Homo sapiens: one gene and its partner. The protein of the gene in region 1 purifies or fractionates together with the protein of each later gene. This does not show direct contact. Each region holds a gene or a part of one and is shown on either strand. Other genes may lie near its edges. The genes, in order: ITGA3 and SEPTIN2.

Region 1 (3,500 bases):
CTGCAGTGAGCTGAGATGGCACCACTATACTCCAGCCTGGTTGAGAGATGGAGTCTTTTTTTTTTTTTTTTTTTTTTGAGATGGAGTCTCGCTCTGTCACCCAGGCTGGAATGCAGTGGTGTGATCTTGGCTCACTGCAACCTCCACCTCCCAGGTTCAAGCGATTCTCCTGCCTCAGCCTCCCAAGTAACTGGGACAACAGACGGGCACCACTGCACCCGGCTTATTTTTTATATTTTTAGTAGAGACAGGGTTTCACCATATTGGCCAGGCTGGTCTCGAACTTCTGACCTCATGATCCACCGGCCTCGGCCTCCCAAAGTGCTGGGATTACAGGCGTGAACCACCACACCCAGCTGGGAGTCTTCTATCTTGAAAGAAAGAAGAAAGAAGAGAAAGAAAAGAAAAGAGAGAGAGAGAGAGAGAGAGACAGCCTCATTCTCTCTTTGCCTGCTGCCATCAGCGTAAGATGGGACTTGCTCCTCCTTGCCTTCCACCGTGATTGTGAGGCTTCCCCAGCCATGTGGAACTATCAAGGCAAGAGAAAAACCTGACATCAAAGCAACACATTCTAAGACTGAGTTTATGTGCCTATCTGGATACTGATAATTCATGTCTGAAGAAAGTATAAGTATTGCATTCTCTTGGTCACAGTAATTGTTTCAGAGAGGAGTACCTGAAATAGTCAGAGCTAATGAGTTGTAGTCAGATATCTACTGGGACTATAGAACTTGAAGGTCAAAGAAGATAAAGCTGAAGCTGTTGCATTCATCTTGGCACTACGAAAAGAATGCCTATCAAAGAATGGAGGCAACACGAAGAACACAGAGTTAAGTGCTTGAGATAAATCACATCCTGGTGGCATCATATGAGCACCAGGAGCAAGGCAAGCCTTAACCAGAACTCTTCTGTGTGTGAAGCAATAAAATCAAAATCCTTTTTGGAATATAACAACAACAACAAGAGACAGAGAGAGAAAAAAATGCGGGGGGAAATGTCTATCTGGGACCCAGAAATGGAGAACTCAGGGGCTGCCACTATAGAATGTGGGCAGGAGGTGACACATTTGATTAGCCCCCAGACCAGAGCTGGGTGAGCCGGGGTCAGCAGGGCTGGGCCTCTTCCGGCAGTCAGCCTCCCAGGAAGGAGCGCCAGCCAGCGCTGAGCTGCCTGGGGCCCTCTCTGCCCTTTCTCCTCCTTGCAGTTCCCTCGGCTCCCTCGGCTTGTTCCCACGAAGGCTGAGCACCCAGTGTAGGCATGCGGAGGAAGTGGATGAGTCAGAGAACTCAGGCCGTGCGGGGGTTTGGGAGAGCACAGGATACTCACCCCCTCCCCAGGAGTGCAGAGAGCGAGGGACACACAGCCACAGGAAGGGACATGTGTGCAGGCCCCAGCACACACGCGCCGTGGACCCCCCTGCTGCCCTCTTCTTTCCTCCCAGCTCTGGAGATGAGGGGAGAGCCGGGTAGAGGTGGAGGAGCCAACACTGAGCACCCACTTACCAGAACTCTGCCTGCAGGGCCCTGGCTGGCCACAGTCACTCCAAGCCACATGTCCTCAATAATGTGATGGCCAGGGTCATCTGTGGGCACCGGAAGGATCATGAATCAGAGCACCTCACCCATACTTCAGTGCCCAAAGTCTCCAGAGGGCAGGAGTGGGTCCCGCTTGGGCCCTCCACCCACAGGGCAGCCCTCCCAACTCCCCTTCTCCAGCTCGTCATTATTCTGAGCTCTACCAATCCCATCCAGCCCCACTCTCCTCTAGGGCACCCTCTTCCCAGCTGGACAAGAAGCGACTAGAAGCCGTGTGAACAAGCCTTCTATCTCCTCCAGGCCATTCTCTCTGCGGTACCCCCCTGCCAGACCTCTGACCCAGCACCCCTCCCCAGCCCCTTCCCCTCACTTTTCACTGTGATGTTCATCCGCTCACAGTCATCCTTGTGGGCAGTGAGTGGGCACAGGTACACAGCACCAGTCCGGTTGGTGTAGCCATCGGGCACAGCGAGCTCCCGGGGGGCACCAGCCAGGAGCCTGGGGATAGGGACGGAGGTGGGTCCGGGTTCAGACTCCCCAAGCCCCACTTGGAACAACTTGTTATTTATTCAACATACATTTACAGATTCTTGGTGCCAGGAGACCCCCAGCTCCTGCCCTCCAGAAGTGCCCAGTGTAGGGTAAGGCAGGCAAGGAAAAAAGACACTAGAAGGAAGTGCCCCGGGAGTGGGAAGCAGGGAGCACAGTAGCCCAGGCTCAGGGCTGAGGGGGCAGTGATGGAGGCCAGCAGAAGAGGTGACCTAATCTGAGTCTGAGGACAATCACCAGGGTTCTCCAGGTGAAGAAGGGGAGGAAGAGCACTTGGGCAAAGGCACACATGTGCAGGGCCAGGAAGCAAGAGCCAGCAGGGTGAATCAGAGACCTGCAAGGCCCTCAGCATAGCTGGAGTCCAGGAGCCTCTGGGGAGGCACACAAAGGCAGGCTGGGAAGGTCCTTAGGGGAACCACAGAGGGATTTTAGGCAGGGGCATGACATGGCCAGATCTCAGTTTTGGAAGGAATGCTTTGGCCTTTGAGATGAAGGTAGACCAGAAGAGAGCAAGATGAGGAATCCTGGCAGAGAGTTCAAATTCTGGGGGTTCAGAGGGGAGAACTTAGGGGACTGGGTTGTCAGAACGCTGGGTTTTTCCTCCTGAAGCCATGTGGAGACTCAGATCTTGGAGACCTGGGCCCCTAAGCGACCTGGGTGATGTCCAACATCCTTCCCCAGTTACCTTAAGACAGGCACACAGGTAGGGGTTGGGATAAGTACCTGACACTTTGGACAATGTGGCCCCAGAGCAGAGTTCCCAGTGGGTGGGCAGCAGGTGGGGAGGGAAAGGGCTCTTGCCTTGCTCCCAGCCTGCCCAGAATCCATCTTTGGGGATGCAGACAGCAAGTTCCTGCAAGGATGCTTAGGACCCTGGCAACCCGTCCCATACCAGAGGGGTGGCTGGAGCAGAAAGAGGCAGGGGTTGGCCCTGAAATGCCATCTTAGAGGACAAGCCTTGGGCCATCAGAAACCCCGGGGATCTTTGTTAAAAAGGTAGATTCCTCTGCCCACAACACACCATCTGGTGGAATCTGGTGCACCCCAGTTTGAGAACTCAGTTTTAGCAGATTTTCTCCCCACATCACCTCCCTGCAGCCTCTAAATGTTCTGCCAGGAGCCCCTGCTCAATCCTGATGGCCCTGGCCTTCTCGGGTGGCAGGCACCTCCCAGGTGCCCCACCATTTGGCCCCAGCAACTCTATCACTCTACAGCTCCCAGCTCAGAACTTGGGCTCTGGGCCTCCTGCCAGTCTGGAAGTGCCAAGCAACAGCCACGCCTGTAGCTTCTGCCTGGGACCTGTGAGTGTGGGCTACAGGGAGTGGGCTGGGCAGGGCAGGGCAGTGCAGGGCCTGGGCATGCCAGGGCCTGGGGTATCTCCACCCACTGGGAGTCAGGAATGTACTGCCTGCGGGT
Region 2 (4,020 bases), on another chromosome or scaffold:
GTGATGTGCACATATCAAGAAGTCAGAGGTAGGCCCTGTTGTCCCTTAGCCTGGAAGACAGGCAGTTACTAACATTGTGTCAGCTTAAATATGACAGGTTCCTCCTTAAGCCTCATTAATATTTTGCATTTTGAAGTAACTCCATCACTAATCTTAAACAAGGAGAGATTGCTCCTGAAAAACAGAAGCCACTACTTTGCCACCTACTTTCTAGTAAAGATTTTTCATATTTTTGTCTCTTCTTTTTTTTTTAAATAATTTCAACTTTTATTTTATTGGGGTACATTTGCAGGTTATTTTCTAAGCTTGCAAATACCAACATTAGAAGGAAATTATGTATTAAAGCACTTTTATTAGTTGTATTATTGGAAATTTGTTAATTGTTAAAACATCTCTTTAAAGGGAATAAAAACGTGTTATTAAAACAGCTTGTACAGATTAAAAGTAGAGATGGCACAAGGAAGAAGAATTATGTGAGGTAGATAAGGGTTCCCTGGATGGTGACTGCTGACCTCCTGTTCCTCAGATAGCTTTGTCCCGACTGATGGTCATTAGTGAATAGATCTGTCTGGCATGGTGTATGCTGGTCTGCCTGCTTGAAAAGAATCTGCAGACTCCAGAGACTCAGGACCAGGAAAAGGCAGATGCCCACTCCCCTGTATCTTATGTATCTTATGGACAGGCAGGCTCTCTGAACTGTCCAGGTGGCCACTCCCATCACTTGCCAGAGGAAAAGCATGAAAGGTAAAGTTAAGTAATGACCTAAGAGTCCAAAGAAGAGGGTAGGTCACATGGAGCTGGGGTAAAGGCAAACAAACCTCATACAAGAGATCTGATTAGAGCTTGAAAGAGAGTTTGAGTTGGCCAAGATCTGAGGATGAAACGCTGGGAATTTGGTAGAAGGTCTCTACTACAATTCAGGGACCTCATTCTGGAAGCATGAGTGTGTTCATGAAAACAGGGAGGGGACTTGAGCCTTCAACGACATACGGCAGGGTGGGTTAGGCAGAAGGCAGGGAGTCTTGAGGCCTCCACAGCATGTGGACAGGTGGCTGAGGAAGGACCCAGAGTGACTTGCTGGAGCCTTAGTCACCAAACGCTCTTGCAGCTTAGTGGGAAAGGTGTTCATTGTAAAATACGGTATTTACACAAAATGCACAAAAATACGTATGTACAGTTTAATAAGTTACTGTAAGGAAAACATCCATGTCACCCCCAACTGAGTCCAAGTTGGTTGCTTTAGTTTCATCATCACAGTGACACCTTAGAATAGTCCTGAGGGTATGTGCTTAGTTCACACTTTACTGATGAGGAAATTGTTGCCGCTCCGAGAGTTTAAAAGTATTTGCTGATGGTGCCATGACTTTTAAACGATGGCCTGCTGACTCTAGAGGCTGGTCCTGCATAACCAGTTAATGGCATGTGACTGGGGAAGTGAGGGTACAGTGGAAAGAGACAAGGATGCCTCAGCGATGCAGCTCATTTGAAGCAGGAAGCAGTGACAGGTGTTTGCTTATTTTCTCTGAGCTTCATTTTCAACCTTTATGGAATGAAAATTTTACTTTTAGATCGATAAAATTTTATTTCTGTATACTTTCTAGTTTTGCAGCATTTCCAGTTTCCAGGAGCCTCATGAATGGCTTTTTGGTTTAGTTAACTTTGTGGTCATGTAAGCCCTGCCTTTTGCTCAGTTTATGACCTTTGTTAAGGAGAAAAGTAGAACTGTTAATAATTAACGCAGCAGACATTGCCTCACTCCCACTTAAGTGTGTTTTGTTTTCTTTTTTCTAGAAAACACTTTCCTGGATAAAAAAGAAAACATTCCAGATGCATGATCCAGCTGTGTGTTTTCAATCCTTGGGAGGGTGCCATCCACATTTTAACAGTACCTGTGCCTGAGAATTTAATTTTTAAAAGACTTTGATGTGTTTTTGTATGAAGTACTTTTAACGTATGTATTTCATTGCTGTGTCACACTCTGTGTTTTGTGAGGTGAATGTCTTCCTTTTCTTTCTCCCTAACCACTAATGTTAGAATTGATTTCCAAGAATCGGCATGTATACTTAATACTGAATTTCTTTGATTTAACTGACTTAACAACTGACTAACCATTGATGAGCACTCCTGATTTTTATCTAGAACATTCAGATTTACCATAATGTTCCTTAGTGGTAGAGGTGTGTGCCTAGTGATGTAGAAAGATACACTGACTTGGTGCAAGGCCATCTGCTTACCACATCACACCACTTGGAGATCTTTGCTTCCTTGCTTTTATGTTTGTACACAACACCTAAAACCAGTTTTGCTGCTATAATTCTATACTGTTGATTCGTCTGCGATTTTATCTGTTAACCAAATAAAACATAATAGAATTTCCTAATGAGATATATCTTTATACTTAAACAGCTTTTTTAGAGGTGAGTTTTAAAGAAGTCTCTTAATTCTGATGCTAGGTTGTTTTTAAAACCACTATGCAAAGAACTCACCACAAGCCACCTTTTGTAGTGTTCTCCACTAATACTGGTTATCCTGTGCTACAGAGAAAATCAAAGCAGTCATAAGCTCCAGTTTTCGTATTGCAAATAAGACTCTTACCTACAAAATGAGATTCAGTGAACTAATTTGGTTTTTACTCAACCAAATTAAAAATTTTTTTAAGGAAAATTAGCAGTTGGTCTATTCAGAATCAAACCTTTTTATATTTTATACTGCACTTTAGTGTATTTTCTGTCACTGTAGGTATAGAAGATCTGCCTCCCCTGTGGAAATTGGGGTCTGTTGGTGGGCGTGCCCCTGAAGCCTGGCTTGGGTTGAAAAGTGTTCCCGCCCTAAGGCCTTGGTGCCCTGAACCTCTGATGCCTACCGGGTTCTCCTGATTTGAGTTTCCTTTAAATACTCCCTTTTTGAGTAATTTTCTGATGGGAGGAAAGTAGCAGTCATCATCTTTTTGTGTGCAGGCTGTCTCATTTATTTTTAGCCATTGTCGTTTCATTCATTTTGTGTAATATAAACCGTGTGTCATGTCAAAGTGAAAGACATTTCAAATCTGTAGCATAGGCTAGTGGGCAGGTCCGCACAGTCGAAGCCACACCTGGTCTGTTTTCTGTGCACTGTAGCCTTAGTGTCACCTTTCTTCTTGTGTCTCCTTATGGTACACTCCAGCGGTTGCCTTTTTTATCATTTCTACTGAAGTTGGGAAATTCAACCCCAGAAATTGACAGATGAAAGGAGACAATGGTTGTGTAGGGAGATGGAGAAAATGCTTAATCTGAGGATGAGACAGGGTTTTTTCATTTTTGTGGGGGCTAGAAAAAACATAAAATGAGGCAGTTAAATAATAATAGTTAATGAAGGTGTGCTACAGAAAATAATCTGGTGTTCTTGCTAACTTTGCCCTTCACTGTTGCTTAATTGTGAACAGCCAAAAGCTATATGTTATGGCTTATTGTGTGAAGGTAACTAAGAAGTGGTGTTCCATGACTTCAGAGTACATCCATGCGGAGTCCATTATTTGAGTTTGACATTTAATAACTTTGCTGGAAAATCTGTAAAAAAGAAAAACAAGTTTGCTAGTGACTAAGCCCCGCATATGTGAGTGAAAGTACTTCAGGCACGCTGCCTCCTGGTAACAGCTATGCAGGGAGGGAGGACCCACACTGCTACACTTCTGATCCCCTTTGGTTTTACTACCCAAATCTAAATAGATACTTTTGATAATAGATAACTGCTCTTTTACTAAGACATAGTCTCTACCTATAGAAATGTATTTTGAAAACACTTATTTTACACAGCAATTTTGTATCCATTTAAACTAACCTTTTATCAATAAAGCACTATTGTTTAGATATTAAATGAGTATTTCTCTTGGTTATTTGCAAGGGAAAGTTGTGAGGTTTTCTGGGAAAATTCAAAGTCTTGACAACATCTTTGTATAAAATCAAGAAAAATTACTTGAATCAATAGTGTCAGTACTGGACAAGTTTGTACGTATTGGAGATCCAGCCCAAAAGAAAGCACAAA

The links.
Region 2: the proteins of ITGA3 (region 1) and SEPTIN2 fractionate together in Homo sapiens (co-fractionation; one large-scale study listed by BioGRID). This does not show direct contact.

What each region holds. Positions count from the first base shown.
Region 1 is NC_000017.11:50,062,610-50,066,109, reverse strand, and holds part of ITGA3 (integrin alpha-3 preproprotein), read right to left. Parts: intron 2,034-3,500; coding exon 1,906-2,033; intron 1,583-1,905; coding exon 1,503-1,582; intron 1-1,502.
Region 2 is NC_000002.12:241,350,176-241,354,195, forward strand, and holds the end of SEPTIN2 (septin-2), read left to right. Parts: 3' UTR 1-28; intron 29-1,767; exon of another isoform or gene 1,768-1,791; 3' UTR 1,792-3,852; downstream 3,853-4,020.